Linked DNA regions of Homo sapiens: region 1 is linked to region 2. Evidence: fine-mapped expression QTL. Tissue or cell type: gastroesophageal junction. Region 2 holds a variant in brackets; the other region holds the start of a gene. All regions are shown on one strand. Distances are between the middles of the regions.

What was found. PIP is the estimated chance that this variant, and not a neighbour inherited with it, causes the effect.
Region 1: it holds the start of PHF19, and the variant in region 2 is fine-mapped to the expression of PHF19 in gastroesophageal junction (GTEx, PIP 0.99).

The regions. Positions count from the first base shown.
Region 1 is chr9:120,876,030-120,878,709 of GRCh38, reverse strand. PHF19 (PHD finger protein 19) reads left to right here and starts at 1,522. Exons shown (of 15, transcript NM_015651.3): 1 at 1,522-1,619. RefSeq lists enhancers at 723-772, 1,033-1,082, 2,094-2,680 and silencers at 1,203-1,482, 1,723-1,772, 2,053-2,502.
Region 2 is chr9:121,740,937-121,743,616 of GRCh38, reverse strand. All of the region lies in intron 3 of DAB2IP (DAB2 interacting protein), which reads right to left. Among named protein-coding and RNA genes, the nearest start is that of DAB2IP, 91 kb to the right of the region's middle. RefSeq lists an enhancer at 256-955. The variant T/C (reference allele first, on the strand shown) is at 1,218.

The sequences.
Region 1 (2,680 bases), 860 kb after region 2:
CAGAATGGGGCAGTGAGGCAGGTGAGAGCAGGGGGATCAAGGGGCAGAAGGAAGTGAGGAAGGAGGTGAAAGGACTCCTGGATCTCTGCTGAGAAGGTGAGGTGGGGGGCTGCACAGATCATGCTCCAAGGCCAGGAGGCAGAGGGCCCAGAGTGAGCAACTGACAGTGAACAGGGAAGGCTCTGGGGGAAGGTGCTGTCCACTGGCCACACCCATGAAAGCACATATCCCTGTCTGGTGGGGGTGTCTGCAGAGTGGGATGGTAGCCACAGAGGTGGGCGCTGTGGACTGAGGGCAAGGATGGGGGTGGGGTTATTGGTAAGTGTTCTTCCTCCCTTCCCCCAAGAGTGAGTCTGGGTGGGGCCATGTCTGCCTTTCCCCCACAGGGCAGGGTCCCTATGATTGGAGCTCTGCCCACTGACTCCATCTGCCATTCCTATGACTCTGTGCATGTTGTCTTTCATTGTGTGCCCTTTATTTACATGACATGTTGTGCGTGTGGTATATATTTGCGATTGTACCATGTATTTCTGTGCACTGTGTCTCTACGCAATTTGTTGTTTGGGGCTATTTCGGCCATGTAGGTTTCCTCTTTTGTGAATTGCCTTTTGATATCCTTAACCCGTATTTTAAAAATTGCATTGTTAGCCCACTGAATTCCCTCCACCTGGCACACCCACTAACCTATTTCCACAACCTATCTGAATGCCACTTTTTCAGGAAAACTTGTGTCTCTTGCCCGTCTGTGTTGTGACTTTATGTGTTATGTCCGTCTACCTTACATGCATGTTCTGTTGTGTGTCTCTGTTGTGTACAGTGTGTTCCCCCTTGTGTATCTATGCCTATGGCTGGTGTGTACAGTACTTCTCTTTGTGGTGTGTTTGTGTCCTGTACATGCTGTGGTGTGTTCTGACCTGTGTCGGAACAACATGCGTTGTGCACTGTGTGTTGTGTATCTACATTATACTTGTGCTGTGTCTCTGTGCCGAACGCCTGTGCTGTTAGTGCAAGGTGTTGTGTGGCCTGTTTGGGCGTCCTGGGTCTGTGTCTGCGCCAAGGGTCCGCGCCGCCCTGCTGTGTGTCTGTGCCAGGGTCCGCCGGTGCCTGCGCGCAGAGCTGTGTTTCCTCAACAAGTGTGCGAGCGGTCGTGTGCGCCATGAGCGCTGCCTGGCGTCTCCGTGTGCGCCGCGGTGTGGCCGCTCCTCGGCGGGGGGCCCGGGTCCTGGCTAGTGGCCGCGGAGGATGCGCGCCCGCGGGGCGGGCGGGGGCGGGCGGGGGCTGGCGGCGCTGCGGAGCCCGGCGGCCGCGGGCTCCAATGGCGAGGCCGGCGCGGCCCCCGCTAATTACATAAGCGGGACGTCAATAATTCGCGGGAAAACGCGAAAAAGATGGCGCCCCGCGCCCGGGGGGCCCCTTCCTGAGCGCCCCGGCCCCTCCCTCCGCCGCCTCCCCCTCCTCCCCGCGGCGCCCCCGCCCCGCCCCGCCCCCGCCGAGACCCCGACCCCGGCCCCACGGGCGGACACTCGGCCGGGCAGCCGCGGGCCGAGCGCAGCCGCCTCCGCCACCGATGCGCCTGGTGGCCAGACTCCAAGTGGGACCGGCGGACACGCAGCCTCGCGGTGAGTTCTGCGCTGTTGGGCGGACTCCCCGCCACGCTCTCCCCTCCCGGCCCTCATCCCTCTCTTTTCGAAATCTCCCTGAACTTTGGCGGCCCGAACGCCTCCGGGGGGTGAGACTCCTGCGGAGCGGGGCTCTCGGGGGTGGGGACCGGGGGTGCAGGTTACCTGCGGGGCAGAGGGGCCCCACCCGGGTTCCCGAGCCCCGGGGGGCATGGGTGACAGGTCGTTCTTCCTCGCCCCCGATCTTTAATTTTCCTATCGGGGTGGGGGAAGGACAGACGGGCGTTTGGCATTTCGCTCACGTCCGAAGTCAGGCTGCGGCAGGGTTGGGATGGGGGAGGCTTGGCGTCCGAGCGACTGAGGAGAGGAGCGCTGAACCCGAAGGGGGTGCTTCTGCAAGCTTTTTCCCCCCTCCTGAACATCCTTTTTAAAAAGCCAACGGCCGCCCTGGGAGAGGCCCCGGCGCATGAATCATCCTCGCTTCCTGCCCCCGCCCGGCCCCGCGCTCCCGGTGCCGCGGATTTGAACTGGACGCAGACGGGAACCCGCAAACAGGCATTTCTTTGCAAATGGGTTTGAATCAGCCAATCACAGCCCGCGGGGGCCCGCTCCGGGAGGACGGAGGCGGGGGCTGGGGGGGCGCCACCCGGGGGCCCCCGCCCGGCCAGGGTGGAGGCGGGTGCGGCGACCCGGCCGGCTCCTAGAGGCGCAGCGGGAGAGGAAGTGTCAGTTTGTGAACCTGCAGCGGCCCCGGCCTGGCCCCTGGCCGGGCGGGCGGGGACCTCGCAGCGCCGGGCGAGCCAGGTGGCAGGGAGAGGACAGGGATTCAGACCGCATCCCCTGCCCGGGAGCCTGTGCGCTCTGCGCTGGAGAAAAAGGAGATGGGAGTGGGGGTGGAGAAGGTCGTGGCCACGCCACCATCTGGGGAGCCGAGACCCCTGCAGTGCCTGGCTCGCCCCAGGGCCCCGCACATACTTAGCTTCACACACTCCCTGGCACAATGCCGTAGACATCATCCTGCCCAGTCTCACAGGAGTACACACACGCACCACACAGAAACA
Region 2 (2,680 bases):
CCCTGATCCCAGACATGCCACTCCAGCCCTGTCCGCTGGGACTAATCATGGCTAGTTCAACAAAGGCTATGTTCCAACTCTCTGTAATGTGCTTTTAAAGGGCCAGTGTCCTACTTGGGCCTGCTGGGGTCTTAAAGGTACAGGTCCCTTTTTCCTATACAGGAAACAGGAAAGAAAAAAAAAACAAAAAACGAAACTCCAAAATTCATGATCAGGTTAGAGGCCCTCGGCTTCTGAGGAAGATTTTAGACACAATGAACAATAGTAAAAATTCAAAGTCCACGAAGGTCCCAAAGAGCTCAAAAACAAAACAAGGAAGCTAAATCTCAGGAATAAGAGATGAGATAGCAGCCCTCTTTGGGCACTATGTGCTGGGCACAGCACTGGGTACTTTGTGGCCCAGTCTCATTTGTTCCTCACCACTCCACAGACAGGCATTACCATTGCCCCATCTTTCAGATGAGGAAGCTGAGGGTGCAAGGGCTCCCCAGCTCGCCAGGACTTCATGCAAGTCAGCTGCAAAGCTGGGCCACACCCCGTGAGGTCCATCCCAGCCAGAGTATTCCTCCCACCTGCTCCCTCCACGAGGCCCTGACTGCTCCATCCCACCTGGACCACAGGCCCCAACTGCTCCACATCCTCCAGTGTCTCTTCTTCATGATGAAGAAAGAAGGGGGCAAGATGAGGAGTCTCACCTGTCACAGGTGCCCCACCACCAGGCTTTCAGTTTGAGCCTCAGAACCCTGTGGGGTCGGGTCTATCTTTTCCTTCATCTTCCAGATGAGAAGACTGGAAATCATGGCTTCTGACACAACACGAAAGAAGAGGAACACTAGGGGAAGGTGAAAGCAGAGAAAAGCGGGCAGTCAGAGGGAGGATGCGGGGAAGAAAAGGCAGGTGCAGGGAACCAAGGCAGATGGGGGCAACCGTCCTTCCAAGCCCAGGACTCAGGCAAGCTGGCCGAGGCCCTTCCACTGTCCACAAGAGTGGAGCTTCTCCTGGGGCAAGGGTGGGCAGGGCCTGCCTAGTTACTGGAATAGGAGTGGGATGGGGAGAGGAAGGGAAGAGAGACTGGACTGTCTGCGTCTCAGCACCTGGTCTACGGCACCCTCAGAGAAGCGTGGGCCATTCTGGCACCTGGAGTGGCTGGGCCCACAGTAGGTGCTGTGTGGCTATCTTCTTTTTTTGAGATGGAGTTTCACACTTGTTGCCCAGGC[T/C]GGAGTGCAACGGCGCAATCTCAGCTCACTACAACCTCTGCCTCCCGGGTTCAAGTGATTGTCTTGCCTCAGCCTCCCGAGTAGCTAGGATTACAGGCATGGGCCACCACACCTGGCTAATTTTGTATTTTTTTAGTAGAGACGGGGTTTCACCATGTTGGTCAGGCTGGTTTCAAATTCCTGACCTCAGGTGATCCACCCACCTTGGCCTCCCAAAGTGCTGGGATTATAGGCATGAGCCACCGTGCCCTGCCCAGTGTGGCTATCTTTGGTCAGAAAAGCCAAGGCCAGGAGGCGTCTTCAGGTCCAACTCCACAGGGGCTGAGTCATTCAAGGATTTAGCACCCTCACTCTGTTTCTGTGATGCCTGGAAGCCAAATAAGTTTCAGAATGTGTAGCCTGATGGTAAAGAAAATGAGCTCTGAAGCCAGGCTATGTTCAAACCCGGACTCTGCCACTTGTAACCTGTGTGGTCTTGGACAGGTTAAGTCACCTCCCTAGGCCTCTCTGTTTCCTCCTCAAAAATGGACATAATATTATTTACCTCATAGGATTGCCGAGAGGATACAGAACAAAGCCTTGCTGAGAGTGAGCGCGTAACAAAAGCCTGCTTTCAGCTGGGGTGAAGGAAGCTGCCCCAGGATAGCTGGAGGCACAAACAGGAAACTAGCCTCTTGGGTAGTGACTGTGGCCAAGTCATTTCTTTCTCTCAGCCTGTTTCTTTCTATAAAAGGACCCTCAGTGATTTCCAGGCAGGATCACCCCTCTGCCACCTTCCAGATGCCTGCTCCGTCCCATAAGGAGACAAGGACAGAAGGTGAGAAACACTGAGAAAGGCTGGGCTGTGGCCCAAATCCTTTGAGGCCTGAAAACAACCTGTCTCGGCTACCCAAGCCCAGACTAAGCAAGTCTGCTGGGTGAGTAGGAGGGGCAGAGCAGGAGGGAAGCGAGAGCCTAAAGCCACACAGGCTGTCAGGAGGCAGCATAAGTGGCTTTGCCTCTCCGGGAGGGGCCCTGCCTCCAGACCTCTCTGGGTTTGTCTTCCATGCTCACGTGTGGTCATGGCATGTGATCCGGCTGAGCTCACCTTACCTATGGGGAGTTCTGCATCAGCCATAGGGCCACCCTACACGCCTGTTGCAGAAACAGCCTCCCCAAAAGCTACAGGCTTTGCCGCAAGCATCCCCAAGGTTTGACAAGGTTCAAGGCTTGCCTCATCCTATCTTCCTGGAGCCGAATGCATCTGGTGCGCATGTGGGGAGAGGAGGGGGTGTCGAGCATCAGAGGAAACAGGTGGGTGGGAGGCAGAAGGAATGCCTTGGAGCCCTGGCAGAACATCTGGCCACTATTCTTGAGAGGTAGTAGGAGACCTGGGTGCCTTAACCTCCACCCTTACTACCTCACCCCCAGGATTAGTCAGTAAGAAGAGGCCCAATTTGGGGGTTTTGCAGGCCCAGGCTCCA